2 separate regions of the Homo sapiens genome follow, and region 2 is linked to region 1. Evidence: fine-mapped expression QTL. Tissue or cell type: blood mononuclear cells. Region 1 holds a variant in brackets; the other region holds the start of a gene. All regions are shown on one strand. Distances are between the middles of the regions.

Evidence for each region. PIP is the estimated chance that this variant, and not a neighbour inherited with it, causes the effect.
Region 2: SLC5A9 starts here. The variant in region 1 is fine-mapped to the expression of SLC5A9 in blood mononuclear cells (TOPMed, PIP 0.95).

Annotation. Positions count from the first base shown.
Region 1 is chr1:48,165,725-48,173,928 of GRCh38, reverse strand. The region is part of intron 12 of LINC02794 (long intergenic non-protein coding RNA 2794); the gene reads right to left. It also overlaps the pseudogene SKINT1L. Among named protein-coding and RNA genes, the nearest start is that of SLC5A9, 53 kb to the left of the region's middle. The variant T/C (reference allele first, on the strand shown) is at 4,438.
Region 2 is chr1:48,219,268-48,227,443 of GRCh38, reverse strand. SLC5A9 (solute carrier family 5 member 9) reads right to left here and starts at 4,728. Exons shown (of 14, transcript NM_001011547.3): 1 at 4,546-4,728; 2 at 2,649-2,720. The coding sequence starts at 4,707.

The sequences.
Region 1 (8,204 bases):
GTGTTAAGCATAGTACTTCCATAATAACAGACTGTGAAGAATAAGGAGGTCAAACTAAACATAGAATGTGTGAGAATTTTCCAGAATTTAAAAAAGACAAGAATCATCCAATTCAAGAAGCACTATGAAAGAGCCAGAAAAAGACAAATGCATTCATACATGGATTCATTATAGTTAAAATGGAGTAAATTTTAAGAACTGCCTGAAAGTATGTTTAGAGTAAATGAAATAATGGAATGAAGATGGGCATGTGTGGCTGGCAAGATGACTGAATAGGAACAGCTCGTCTGCACCTCCCATCAAAATCATTGCAGAAGGTAGGTGATTTCTGCATTTCTAACTGAGGTACCCAGCTCATGTCATTGAGACTGGTTAGACAGAGGGTGCACAGAGGGCAAGCTGAAGCAGGGTGGGGCATCACCTCACCCGGGAAGTGCAAGGGGTTGGGGAACTCCCTCCCCTAGCCAAGGGAAGCCATGAGGGACTGTGCCATGAGAAGCGGTGCTTTCCAGCCGAGATACTACCTTTTTACCATGGTCTTCACAACCCATAGACCAGGAGATTCCCTCAGGTGCCTACGCCACCAGGGCCCTGGGTTTCAAGCACAAAACTGGGCGGCTGTTTGGGCAGACACCAAGCTAGCTGCAGGAGTTTTTGTTCATAACCCAGTGGCACCTGGAATGCCAGGGAGAGAGAACCATTCACTTGCCTGGAAATGGGGCTGATGCCAGGGAGCCAAGTGGTCTAGCTCAGTGGATCCCATCTCCATGGAGCCCAGCAAGCTAAGATCCACTGGCTTGAAATTCTCGCTGCCAGCACAGCAGTCGGAAGTCATCCTGGGATGCTCGAGCTTGGTGCAGAGAAGGGCATCCACCATTACTGAGGCTTGAGTAGACGGTTTTCCCCTCACAGTATAAAGAAAGCGGCCTGAAATTTCAAACTGGGCAGAGCCCACTGCAGCTCCACAAAGCCGCTGTAGCCAGACTGCTTCTCTAGATTCTTCTTCTCTGGGCAGGACATCTCTGAAAGAAAGGCAGCAGCCCCTGTCAGGGGCTTATAGATAAAACTCTCATCTCCCTGGAACAGAGCACCTGGGGGAAGGTTGGCTGTGGGCACAGCTTCAGCAGACTTAAACATTCCTGACTGCTGGCTCTGAGGAGAGAAGTGGATCTCCAAGCACAGCACTTGAGCTCTGCTAAGGGACAGATTGCCTCCTCAAGTGGGTACCTGACCCCTGTGCCTCCTGATGGGGAGACACCTCCCAGAAGGGGTTGACAGACACCTCATATGGGAGAGCTCTGGCTGGCATCTGGTGGGTGCCCATGTGAGACAAAGCTTCCAGAGGAAGGAAAGGGCAGCAATCTTGGCTGTTCTGTAGCTTCTGCTGGTGATATCCAGGCAAACAGGGTCTGGAGTGGACCGACAGCAAACTCCAGCAGACCTGCAGCAGAGGGGCCTGAGTGTTAGAAGGAAAACTAATAAACAGAAAGGAATAGCATCAGCATCAACAAAAAGGACTTCCTCACCAAAACCCCAACTGAAGGTCAGCAATATCAAAACCAAAGGTAGATAAATCCATGAAGATAAGGAAAAAACAGGGCAAAAAGGCTGAAAATTCCGAAAACCAGAAAACCTCTTAATAACAAACTCCTCCGAGCTAATGGAGCATGTTCCAACCCAATGCAAGGAAGCTCACAACCTTTAAAAAAAGTTAAAGGAATTGCTAAATAGAATAGCCAGTTTAGAGAAGAACAGAAATGACCTAATGGAGCTGAAAAACACAGCACGAGAATTTTGTGAAGCATACACAAGTATTAATAGCCGAATCGATCAAGAGGAAGAAATTATATCAGAGACTGAAGATCAACTTAATGAAATAAAGCATGAAGACAAGATTAGAGACAAAAGAATGAAAAGGAATGAACAAAGCTGCCAAGAAATATGGGACTATGTGAAAAGAACAAACCTATGTTTGATTGGTGTACCTGAAAGTGAAGGGGAAAATGGAACCAAGTTGGAAAACACTCTTCAGGATATTATCCCAACCTAGCAAGACAGGCCAACATTCAAATTCAGGAAATACAGAGAACACCACAAAGATACTCCTCGAGAAGAACAACCCAAGACACGTAATTGTCAGATTCACCAAGGTTGAAATGAAGGAAAAAATGTTAAGTGCAGCCAGAGAGAAAGGTCGGGTTACCCACAAAGGGAAGCCCATCAGACCAATAGTGGATGTCCGTGCAGAAACCCTACAAGCTAGAAGAGAGTGTGGGCCAATATTCAACATTCTTAAAGAAAAGAATCTTCAACCCAGAATTTCATATCCAGTTTCATATCCAGCCAAACTAAGCTTCGTAAGTGAATGAGAAATAAAATCCTTTACAGACAAGCAAATGCTGAGAGATTTTGTCACCACCAGGCCTGCCTTACAAGAACTCCTGAAGGAAGCACTAAATATGGAAAGGAAAAACTGGTACCAGCCACTGCAAAAACATACCAAATTGTAAAGACCATCAACACTATGAAGAAACTGCATCAACTAATGGGCAAAGTAACCAGTTAGCATCATAATGACAGGATCAAATTCACACATAACAATATTAACCTTAAATGTAAATGGGCTAAATGCCCCAGTTAAAAGACACAGACTGGCAAATTGGATAAAGAGTCAAGACCCTCATTGTGCTGTATTCAGGAGACCCATCTCATGTGCAAAGACATACATAGACTCAAAATAAAGGGATGGAGGAATATTTACCAAGCAAATGGAAAGCAAAAAAAGCAGGGGTGCAATCTTAGTCTCTGATAAAACAGACTTTAAACCAACAAAGATCAAAAAAGACAAAGAAGGGCATTACATAATGGTAAAGGGATCAATGCAACAAGAAAAGCCAAATATCCTAAATATATATGCACCCAAAACAGGAGCACCCAGATTCATAAAGCAAGTTCTTAGAGAACTACAAAGAGATGTAGACTTTGACTTAATGATAATGGGAGACTTTAACACCCCACTGTCAATATTAGACATATCAACGAGACATAAAATTAACAAGATATTCAGGTCTTGAACTCAGCTCTGGACAAAATGGACCTAATAGACATCTACAGAACTCTCCATCCCAAATTAACAGAATATACATTCTTCTCAGCACCACATCACATTTATTCTAAAATCGACCACATAATTGGAGGTAAAGCACTCCTCAGCAAAAGCAAAAGAATGGAAATGATAACAAACAATCTGTCAGACAACAGTGCAATCAAATTAGAACTCAGGATAAAGAAACTCACTGAAAACTGCACAACTACATGGAAACTGAACAATCTGCTCCTGAATGACTACTGGACAAATAACAAAATTAAGGCAGAAATAAGTAAGTTCTTTGAAACCGATGAGTACAAAGACATAATGTACCAGAATCTCTGGGGCACAGCTAAAGCAGTGTTTAGAGGGAAATTTATAGCACTAAATGCCCACAGGAGAAAGTGGGAAAGATACCCTAACACCACAATTAAAAGAACTAGAGAAGCAAGAGAAAACAAATTCAAAAGCAAGCAGAAGAAAATAAATAACTAAGATCAGGGCAGAAGTGAAGAAGACACAAAAAGCCCTTCCAAAAATCAATGAATCCAGAAGCTAGTTTTTTGAAAAAAATTAACAAAAGAGATAAATGCCTAGCCAGACTAATGAAGAAAAAAGAGAAGAATCAAATAGACACAACAAAAAATGATAAAGTGGCTATCACCACTGATCCCACAGAAATACAAACTACCGTCAGAATACTATAAACACCTCTATGCAAATAAACCAGAAAATCTAGAAGAAATGGATAAATTTCTGGACACATACACCCTCCTTAGACTAAACCAGGAAGAAGTCGAATCCCTGAATAGACCAATAACAAGTTCAGAAATTGAGGCAGTAATTCATAGCCTACCAACCAACAAAAGCCCAGGACCAGATGGATTCACAGCCAAATTCTACCAGAAGTAAAAAGAGGAGCTGGTAGCATTCCTTCTGAAATTATTTCAAACAATAGAAAAAGAGGGAGTCTTCCCTGACTAATTTTATGAGGGCAGCGTCATCCTGATTCCAAAACCTGGCAAAGACACAACAACAACAAAAAAGAAAATTTCAGGCCAATATCCCTGATGAACATCAATGTGAAAATTCTCAATAAAATACTGGCAAAATGAATCCAGCAGCACATCAAAAAGCTTATCCACCATGATCAAGTTGGCTCCATCCCTGAGAAGCAAGGCTGGTTCAACATATACAAATCAATAAACCTAATCCATCACATAAACAGAACCAATGACAAAAACCACATGATTATCTCAATAGATGCAGAAAAGGCCTCAATAAAATTCAACATTCCTTCATGCTAAAAACTCTCAATAAACTAGGTATTGATGGAATGTATCTCAAAA[T/C]AATAAGAGCTATTTATGACAAACCCACAGCCAACATCATACTGAATGGGCAAAAGCTGGAAGCATTCCCATAGAAAATCGGTGCGAGACAAGGATGCCCTCTCTCACCACTCCTATTCAACATAGTATTGAAAGTTCTGGCCAGGGCAATCAGGCAACAGAAAGAAATAAAGCATGTTCACATAGGAAGAGAAGAAGTCAAATTGTCTCTGTTTGCCAATGACACGATTGTATATTTAGAAAACCCCATGGTCTCGGCCCAAAAACTCCTTAAGCTGATAAGCAAATTCAGCAATGTCTCAGGATGCAAAATCAGTGTGCAAAAATTACAAGCATTCCCATACACCAATAATAGACAAACAGAGAGCCAAATAATGAGTGAACTCCCATTGACAATTGCTACAAAGAGAATCAAATACCTAGAAATACAACTTACAAGGGATGTGAAGGGCCTCTTCAAGGAGAACTACAAACCACTGCTCAAGGAATTCAGAGAGGACAAAAACAAATGGAAAAACATTCCATGCTCATGGATAGGAAGAATCAACATCATGAAAATGGCCATACTGCTTAAAGTAATTTATAGATTCAATGCTATCCCCATCAAGCTACCACTGACTTTCTTCACAGAATTAGAAAAAACTACTTTAAATTTCATATGGAACCAAAAAAGAGCCTATGTAGCCAAGGCAATCCTAAGCAAAAAGAACAAACCTGGAGGCATCATTCAACCTGACTTCAAACTACACTACAAGGCTACAGTAACCCAAACAGCATGGTACTGATAACCAAACAGATATATTGACCAATGGAACAGAACACAGGCCTCAGAAATAACTCCACACATCTACAACCATCTGATCTTTGGCAAACCTGACAAAAACATGCAATAGGGAAAGGATCCCCTATTTAATAAATGGTGTTGGGAAAACTGGCTAGCCATATACAGAACACTGAAACTGGACCCCTTCCTTATACCTTACACAAAAATTAACTCAAGATGGATTAAAAACTTAAATGTAAGACCTAAAACCATGAAAACCCCAGAAGAAAACCTAGGCAATACCATTCAGGACATAGGCACGGGCAAAGACTTCATGACTAAAACACCAAAAGCAATGGCAACAAAAGCCAAAATTGACAAATGGGATCTAATTAAACTAAAGAGCTTCTGCACAGCAAAAGAAACTATCATCCAAGTGAACAGGCAACCTACAGAATGGGAGAACATTTTTGCAATATGTGCATCTGACAAAGGGCTAATATCCAGAATCTACAAGGAACTTAAACAAATTTACAAGAAAAGAACAAACAACCCCATCAAAAAGTGGGGAAAAGATATGAACAGATGTTTCTCAAAAGAAGACATTTATGTGGCCAACACACATATGAAAAAAAGCTCATTATCACTGGTCATTAGAGAAATGCAAATCAAAACCACAATGAGATACCATCTTATGCCAGCTAGAATGGTGATCATTAAAAAATCAGAAAACAACAGATGCTGGTGAGGTTGTGGAGAAATAGGAATGCGTTTACTGGGTATATACCAAAAGGATTATAAATCATTCTACTACAAAGACACATGCACACGTGTGTTTATTGCAGCACTGTTCACATTAGCAAAGACTTTGAACCAAGTCAAATGCTCATCAATGATAGACTGGTTAAAGAAAATGTGGCTCATAAACACCATGGAATACTATGCAGTCATAAAAAAGATGTGTTCATGTCCTTTGCAGGGACATGGATGAAGCTGGAAACCACCATTCTCAGCAAACTAACACAGGAACAGAAACCAAACACTGCATGTTCTCATTCATAAGCGAGAGTTGAACAATGAGGGCACGTGGGCACAGGGAGGGGAACATCACACACCAGGGCCTGTCGGGTGGTGGGGGGACAGGGGAGGGATACCATTAGGAGAAATACCTAATGTAGATGATGGGTTGATGGGTGCAGCAAACCACCATGGCACGTGTATACCTATGTAACAAACCTGCACATTCTACACATGTATCCTAGAACTTAAAGTATAATAATAATAATAATGTTGTTTTAACTAGGGTGAAAAAAAAGAATGAAGAGGGGCAATTGTTATACTGGTAGTAGTACTTTTTCTTTATTTTAACAGAAATGAAAACCATACAGCAACAATGGAAACCATTTTTTATATTTCTTTCTTTCTTTTTTTTTGTTTTCAGATGGAGTCTCGCTCTGTCTTCCAGGCTGGAGTGCAGTGGCGTGATCTCAGCTCACTGCAACCTCCGCCTCCTGGGTTCTAGTGATTCTCCTGTCTCAGCCTCCCAAGTAGCTGGGATTACAGGTGCACACCACCATGCCCAGCTAATTTTTTTTTGTATTTTTAGTAGAGACAGAGCATATTGGTCAGGCCAGTCTCGAACCCCTGACTTCAGGTGATCCACCCACCTCGGCCTCCCCATATTTCTTAAAGTAATTTGATGAATTTCCATTCAAGCAAAGTGCAAAGTAAAGGTGTTTTCAAGGAAAAGAGAAAACAAAAGAATGTACTCTCAATAAAGTGTGTGTGTGTGTGTGTGTGTGTGTGTGTGTGTGTGTGTGTGTCTATGGGTGTTTGTGATATAATAATTCAAATAAAAATTTTGTCTTGGTCCACTTCTCATCCTTTCGTTGCTGTCTCCCTTCACAGAACAATTCATAGTGAATAGCTTATAGAGGCCAATCTTGGCTCCACTGGGTGGAAAAGTTGAGCTCAGTTGCCAGCTGTCTCCACCACAAAGCGCAGAACACATGGAAATACGCTGGTTCCAGAGTCACTACACACGACCTGTTTACCTGTATAAGGATGGTAAAGACCTGTATGGAGAAACTATCTCCAAGTATGTGGAGCGGACAGAGCTCCTGAAAGAAGCCATTGGAGAAGGTAAAGTGACCCTCAGGATCCTTAATGTCAGTGCTGATGATGACGGGCAGTACCACTGCTTCTTCAAAGACAGAAATGTCTATGAAGAGTCCATCACAGAAGTGAAGGTCACAGGTAAGGATGGATCCCTGTGAGTTTTCTATGCATCCAAGATTCTCAACCTGTATGAGGCTGAGTATTAGGAAAATTCTCACTATTTCTATTTTTATATTATATGGTCTGGTTAACAAGGTCAAATTTATGAGTTTAGAGTTTGATTTGGAAAGAGTGGAGGATCAAGAATGAGAATTATATCTGTTCAGACATCAAAACTATCAGTAAATACTGTCTGCTTTTTTACGTCTACATATATTGCTAGATTGCTAAAAAATTAACAGAATCCTTTTAGAATTTGTTACAATCCTTCTAATTATTTCTGGCAACACTTTAGTAAAACTTGACTTTTAAAAGTACCTGAATCTTTACAATAGACTCTTTAATGATAATTTTTATTCTCATTTCTCCCTGAATCAAATTACTGACTACTTAGTTACAGATTCACCTTTCTAAATGTATTTCAGAAAGCCTTCACCTACTATCTTCAAAATTCTACAGTCTATATACTATATGGGTGCTATTTGCAAATACGTAGCATTTAAGCCAATCACCCTTGAAGTATTCTGAATGAAAGGTGAATACTCACCCTTGAAGTAGTCTGAACGGCAGAGAAATGGAGGGGAGATGGAGGACTTGAAGCAAACTAAGGTCTTCACAAATATGAGGACACATGTGGAGGGATCCAGGGCACTCATGCTTAACATATTTACTGGATATTATATGACACCCAACTCCATAGTCTACAGCTGAGCTATCCAATATGATA
Region 2 (8,176 bases), 54 kb before region 1:
ACACACACACACTCTGACACACATGCACTCACGCCCACACAGGCACAGTACACACACACTCTCACACATGCAATCACACACAGGCACAGTACACACACACTCTGACACACACATGCACTCACGCCCACACAGGCACAGTACACACACACTCTCACACATACACACACACACTCTGACACACATGCACTCACACACAGGCACAGTACACACACACTCACACATGCACACACACATGCACTCACACACAGGCACAGTACACACACACACGCACACACACTCTGACACACACACTCATGCACTTGCACCGTCGCACACATACACTCACACACATGCACATGTCCTCATATGCCCTCACACGCACAGGTATGCACACACGTGCACATACATTCGCAAAGCACACACACACAAGCACACTCATGCACACACACAGTGCCCACATTCACACATGCATACATACTCACACATGGAAACAAATTCACACAGGCACTCACACACACACTCACTCTTCCTCTCTCAGGCGGTCCCAGGGTGCTGGTAGGGCTGGGCTGAACCACCCAGTCAGAGCAAAGAACACCAAGGCCTCCTACTTCAGGGGAAGAAGCCTCCCCCAGGCAGTTCTTGGAGCAGTGAGGCACCTCCACCCCAACCCAGCCCAGGGTTTTTAACCTCACTTCTCCTGCTCCTAACCCAGGAGACATCAACAAGATCAGCAGGGGAGGCATGGGGAGGAGGACCATGCAGACCTCTCTGGAAGAGGACGGGCGACTGCACCTTCTGCTCTCAGCCTCCCAAGCCCCACACTGTTCATGGGGCACAGACTCAGGGCAGGGCAGATGCCCAGACAAACACTCCAGCAGTGCTGGTGGGACTGAGCTTTCCCTACCCAGAGCTGGTTCTTACTCTGGCCTCAGGCAGGACCCAGGTCTCAGGTGCAGGAGGCACAGCTCACAGCCTGGCCCACCAGAGGATGGGGAGCACATCCTCTCTTTCCCACTGGGTGCCTGCTCTGTGTTTGGGGCGCAGTGGGAACCTGGGAGTGCCTGCCAAGGCCTCCCTCTTGTTTGGAGGCCTCAGGTTCCTCACACTAATCGTTGGGCCAGAGCTCGGCTCTCTGTGGGTTGACCAGACAATCAGCAGGGCCCCTGGGCTTCTCCTGAAGTGGTCAGAGGAACCTGCTCTGTCCTGCTTCTTTCTCCTCCTTTCCTTCATTTCCAGGGCTGTGATTTGGGGGGCACTAGCTGAAAAGAACCATTTTGAAGGGTTTTTCCTTTTTCCTGATGAGAAGGTGGCTGTAGCACCAGTGACCCCGCCACTGTTCCTGAGCTGCAAGGCCCAGCTCCCCGCCATCCCTGGGGATTCTGTCATGCTGGACAGACAAGAGCTCCCTGCTCCTACTTCTTCCTGTCCCAGATACCTAAACCTTCCAGAGAGCCCTGGAGGCCTCCTGTGTTTCTGCTACTCTTTAATGAGTCTGTGACCACTAGAGAGTGGGGAAGGTGGTGAGAAGGAGAAGGGTGGGGAGAGGCGTGAAGATGGCTGGTGGTGTGAGTGCGCATGAATGTGTGAGTCTGAGTGTGCACGTGTAAGTATGTAAAGGAGCATGAGTGTGAGACTGCATGTGAGTGTATGTGATTGTGACAGTGTGTATGAGAGTGAGAGTGTGAGTGCGTGAGAGAAGGTGTGAGTGTGAGAATAGGAGTATGATTGTGTGCATGAGTTTGCAAGCATGTATGAGTGCGGGCATGTATGAACATGTGTGGGTGCCTTTGTATGTGAGTGTGAGTGTTGTGTGTCAGTGTGTGAGAGTGTGCATGTGGGAGTGGGTATGCACACATGCCGTGTGTGAGTTTTGCATGCCTGGGTGTGTATACTGCTTCAGCTACCACTGGGGCTGATGACTCTACTGGTAATTTTTGAGGCAGGGCTTTCCTCCCTCCATCCCATTCCAGGAGGAGGAAGTTAATTTTGAGGACCAATAGAAATGTGAGGTGGCTTGATGGGAGAAATTGTGGCTCACGAAGGTTTGGGGATCGATTCCCTGAGGTTTTTGGGGATTTTACCTCTGTGATTCCCCTAACTTAGAAATGTGGTGTGGCTTGATGGGAGAAACTGTGGCTCACAAAGTTTTGGGGATCGATTCCCTGAGATTGCTGGGGATTTTACCTCTGTGATTCCCTTAACTTAACTGTTCTTCAATATTAAGCTTATGTGTCACCTTCCCCCCAAAATCTTTCCTAACCCTAGCTGACTCCACTGTCTGGTGGTCAGGGGCTTCCAAGCTCTGGTGAGTGCCCCCTGCTTCCCTCTGGCTCAGCAGTGCGCATGATGTTTATGAATCTATCTGCCCCACTCAGCTCTGAGCTTCTCTAGGACAGGGACATTCCAGATTCATCACTGCAAGTCAAGTGCCAGATGTAGGGCCACACCTAGGAGGGGCCAGGGGATGTTTGTCCAAGGTGCGTGCTAGCAGGACCACTCAGGTTGCGGGGCGGGTTTGGGCGGGAGAGAAGGGGCCCAGAGTCAGGAAACACAACGGGGAGGTCTTTGCCTTGGTCCAGGTGTGAGAAGATGGGACAAGTGCTTGGATAGTGGGGAGGAAGAAAGTTGGGAGCCTCTGCACTAGGGGTGGTTGAGAAGGGTCAACTCACTGGCCACCAGCTCATGGACCTCCCGGCCAGGAAATAGCCGCCAATGGTCCCTCGACTTGCACGGATGGACGACTGGAAAGGAAATAGATGAGATGAGGATTTCTCAAGACTCTCTGAACCTCTGCCCTGCCCCCTCCCCGCAGATTTCCTTCCCCTCGGTGCAGGCACTGTGGGGACACAGAGGGTGAAAACTGAGGCAGAAGAGAGCTGCCTGAGGCTGGTTCCACAGTTTCTAAGCGATGTATCTTGGCAGAGTCACTTTCTCTGTGAGCCTCGCCATTCATCTCCCAGGGCCAGTGCGAAGAGCAAAGGAGGTAACGGATGTCACGTGTGTGAAGCCATTGATTGTGCACTCTTGTCCCCTTATCCTTCCCTCCCCAAAGTGCGCTTTCAGAGTATGATTTGTTATCACCTCCTTAGATGTGTAGTGCTCACCCTTTCTCTGAGCTGATCCCCTCCCTGCTCCCAGCTGAGCTCCCACACTGGAGGCGGGAGGACAGAGAGGGCTGCAGTTTGACTGTGAGACTTTGAGCCCTGAGTAGAGTTATGGGTACTGTTTTGGAGTTTCCCTTGCCCTGGGTTGAAATCAGATCACGCCACTGAGCCCCATCCAGGACCTCCCTGTCTTACACCAGTAGGTGGTCAGTTAGCAGCCTGTTGGAATATTCTCTGGAGATACAGGGTGAGGGCAGGGCAGTGGGTAGGGAAGGATGAACTTGAAGCAGCTATTCAGATGCAAAAGCCAACAGTTCTCTGACTTTCCCCTAAGGGAAAATAATCAGTCACGAGGGAGTGATAAATATGTGTGGGGCCTTGTGCTTGTTAAGCTTTTGCTTGTATTTTCCTTGTCAGCTCTGATCCTCTTGGAGGCCATACGAGCAAAACAGATCCATTTTACAGATGTGAAAATGGAGGCCCAACATTGGAAGCAATTTGTCCAAAGTCACAGAGGAGTTGGTGCTTTTCTCGGCTGGCCACTTCCAGGAGCCAGTGACCATCTGTTAGCCCAATTCTTCCTCACACCAGCACTAGAAGGCAGGGACTGTTCACCCCCCTTTATAGATGAGGAAACTGAGGCTCAGAGAGGGTCTCTGACCTGGCCACAGCCTAGGAAGTGACCATCTGGGACTTGAATCACAGCAGAGTCTAAAGGTGCTCACACTTCTGTGGAATGCGTGGTGATAATAGCAGCCATTTATTGCCTGCTGATCGGGCACCAGGCACCGTGCCAGGTGCTGCAGTATGTCCTGTTGCTGAATGATCACAGCATAGTCCTTATTCTCATTGTTCACCTGAGAAAGCTGATAGGCCTCATATGTTCCCAGGGACATGAGGCTCTCATTGTTGCAGCTGGGACCTGAACTCAGGTTTCCCTGACCCCAAAGCCTGGCCCCTGCCTCTAGCACTGAGGCTCCTGGGAACAATGGAGAACAGAGGAACCTTGGAATAAGCCTGGCACACTTCCCTGAGAGCACATGAGCCCCTTCTCATTTAGAAATCACCTTAGCCAAGATGCTAACGAATGCAGGACTGAGGTAGGGCCAGGGGTCAAGAGTTCTCAGAGTTGGGGGCCTTGGGGTGGGAAGAAGGAAGGAGTGAGGCTCAGGGCAACCAGGGATGGTTGGGGCCAAAGGCAGCAGGTGCTCAGAGAGGAGTCAGGAGTCGGGGGCCTGGTCTGCCTCTGACTCTCTGTGTGACCTCAGACCAGCCACACCCCTCTCTGCCCTTCTAAAAATGAGGAGATCAGGAGCCTGATTCCTGAAGGCCCTTCCTTCTCAGCCACATGGTTCTATGATCTGCTTCTTTCTGCCTAGCCCTGCCCCAGCTCCACAGCCCCACCCAAGCTGAGAGACCACTACTACCTCCCCTGCTAGCCCCAGCCTCAGGGCCCACTTACCCAGATCCCCACAGCAATGACGAAGACAAAGTAGATGACCACCACGCTGATGTCGTAGGCGTGCAGACCAACTCTGGAGTCCAGTGCTATGTGTGGAGCTGTCTCAGTCCTGACCCCGTCCCCTGAAGCTCCAGGCCCCATTGCTGCCAGCTCCTTGCTCATCTGTTAGTGTTGGTCAACAGCAGGCTGGACTTTGAGGCGCTCCTGGCTTCATTCCTTTCCTTTAATGATTAAACTGCCCCAAGCACCATTAGTTGGTGAGAAAACTCTGAGCCCTGCTGGCACATACAGTCCTGCCTCCTTTTCTCCCAACTGCCACCACCAACCCCTGCAGGACTCCTTCCTTCCTCTTCCTTGCTGCCACTACGTGCACACACATACATGCATGTGTACACACAGGCACACACATACACGCAATCTCCCTAACCCCAGATGAGCAGGAGGAGAAAGGAGGGGGAGGAGGAAGAGGAGAAAAGGAGCAGAATATTGGAACCCCAGAGGTGGGAAGGACTTCAGAAATCAAAGTGTTCAAACTCCTGTGTGGTGGGAAAACCAAGGCCCAGGGAAGTAAAGGTGGAGCCGGGACTGGAGTCCAATTTTCTTAAGAGTTCAATACAATTGTCTTTTACCTAGTGAGAGGAAGACAAGGGGAAGGAGGTGAGGAGTCTACTGTGACCCTAGCAAAGTGGCCACCACCTCATGTACTCCCATTCCAACCTACCTAGATGTTGCTTTCTCTTTTTATATAGTGTAGGAAACTGAGGCTGGGGAAGACATCATCATTTATTCCAAGGAACTAGGCAGGGCCATCTCTGAAAAGGCAGAGCCAGAATTCACATCTTCTGATGCCTGACCCATACTTCCTATTCTGTACTGTGACAGATGAAATGGTTGTGGTCAGGAGGCCTTCCCTGAAAAAGATACAGTGCTCCCTGGGTCCAGGGAAGACCATCTCTGGGACTCAGGCAGCCTAGATTTCAGTCCCAGCTCCACCTCTCACTGAACTACAGATGCCCTTGGGCAGGTTGCTAAATGTCTCTGGGCCCGGGTGTCCTCATCAGTGTGACCTGTGCCCTGCCTGCCTCACACCACCAATGAGGCTAAGATGTGCTCCTGAGAACCTCTGCAAACCCTGAGCTACTGAATGTTCTTGGGGTTAACACAAAGAAACCAACATCGACCACCATCTAGCCAAGGGGCCCAGATGCCACGCACTTAGATATCTGCTCACATGGTCCTTCCAAAGTAGCTGCATTTGGAATATTTCAGTCTTACAAATATTACTCTGCATGCATCTGCTGTAGGGCCCAGACTGGAGCAGCAGGAAAACAGATCTCACTGGCCCTGTCCCACACCCCATCCCCAGCTCTCACTGGCCCTGTCCCACACCCTATCCCCAGCATCTTATAAGTATCCCAAGGCTGGGTGTGAGGACCAGATCCTCTTTTTTCCCCTTTTGGTGGAAAGAAAAGTGAGAGGCAGGGTCCTAGGCCTTCTCTCCCCAGTTCTCCTATCCCAGAACATCAGGCACTGGCCAGGCTGAGCCCCGAGGAGAGGGATATTGATCTGGGAGAGAGGTCAGCATAGTCCCCAGCTGGACAGGGCTCTGTGGGATCTAGCACCTGTTAGGATTAGATACCAGAGGAAGAGTCCTTCATATACACGTTTAAAGGCAAGTTTATCAGACGAACAGGGATGCAGGAGGGGCAGCATTAGAAACATCAGGAAAATGTGATGGACCAGGTGCCCAGTGGTCCCTGGGGGTGAGCTGGATACAGGGACAGTGGGGAATGAGGCTGGCAGATCTCTGGGTGTTAATCAGGGAGCAGGGAAGGAGTGGTCTGAGCTTAGGCCTCTGAGCACACCATAGTGAGGGCTCTGGATCCGGATGACTCTTCCAGAGATGGGAAAAGGAATGTCGCAGGGAGAAGACAGCTGAGTCTTGTACTTCTTTCTATGCTCCCCACAAGGAGCCCCCTCACCCAGCCCTTGGGGTTTGCTATAGTTTGGATGCTTGTGTTGCTTCCAAAATTCATGTTGAAACTGAATCCCCAATGCAACAGTACTAAGAGGTAGGGCCTTTAGGAGTGATTAGCCCGTGAGGGCTTCTCCCTCATGGGTGGGATCAGTACCTTATAAAAGGGCTAAGGGAACTAGCCAGGCCCTTTTGCCTTTTTACCTTCTGCCATGTGAGGACACAGCCACAAGGTGCCGTCTTGGAGGCATAGACTGGGCCCTCACCAGACACCAAACCTGCTGGGGCTTTGATCTTGGACTTCCAGCCTCCAGAATTGTGAGAAATAAATTCCTGTACTTTATAAATTACCTGGTCTTAGGTGTTTTGCTGTAGCAGTAGGGATGGACTAGGACAGTGTTCTGCTGCCTGCATGCTCTGTCTTCCCATCTACCTCACAGATACATGAGGCTGACCCCCAAACCCTGCACACTTACCTAATCCAAAACTAGCAGGTTTGGGTTTATAGTAGCCTCTCCTCGAATGCATCTAAGACTTATCTGTAAGCTAACCAGGCACATTAGCAGCCCAGAGACCAACAGAGCATGAGGAAGGGAGCAAAAAAGGCTTTGAAACAGCCAGAATAGACATTCTAAAACTCATGCCCAAAACCTAAATCTTTGACTTATCAGTGAGCCTTGTGACCCCACTCAGAGACTGTTTATTTTTGTTTTAGCCAGAGTCTTGTTATTCATATCCCAACTCACAACAAATTAGAAGAGAGGGGGCAAAGCTACACAGGGACAGCAAGGAGAATGGCAGCTGATGGGTTGATGGTGCATGAGAGGTCATTAAACCTGGAAAGACCAGGAAAGACAATGTAAAAGATGACTAAATCGGGGCAAACAGACCTATAAAACTGGGTAGATCAACTCTCAACAAAGGGCATTCTTGAGTAGCAGCCAAGATTCACACACATACGGATGACCCAGAGTCATCAAGGAAAGGTGACTGTGGTCATTATGAGTTTTCTATTTAGAAGGCATGGAGTATGAAACCCAGGCAGGAAGAGTTTCATGCAAAATGGTCAAACATTTTAGGCAGGTGTTGGCATTCAAAGCTGAGGCCTCAATTATCCAGAATATTCTCTCAGAGAGCTTCCGAGAGTGAAGGATGTCCTCATGCTGTCAGTCCTACATGAAGTGAGGCCTGTCCTATCCCTGACCCTGTTCAGGGAGCACACATGTCTTTAGTTGTTCATGCCTTGTGGGGAATACAGACAGTCAAAAGACAGGTGCTTTTGACACAAAATAGGTCACTTTTGTCCACCCCTTTCTTCCTTTTAGCTGGATAGCCCAGAGGAAGGATCAATGAAGTCCTTTGTTGGAGAGACTGAGAAAGCTTTATGGGAAGGGGAATGGTTTCAGCCATGCATAAAAAAGTATAGAAATATAACAGGCCAATAAATGGAAGTTGCCACTGAGGCACAAAGACATACTACACATAAGAAGAACAAAGTTGGAGGTTTCATGCATCCTGATTTCAAAACTCACTACAAAGCTACAGTAGTGAAAGCAGTGTGGTAGTGGCATAAAGACAATCATATAAACCAATGGAATAGAACAGAGAGCCCAGAAATAAAGTCTCACAGTTACAGTCAAATGATTCTTGACAAGA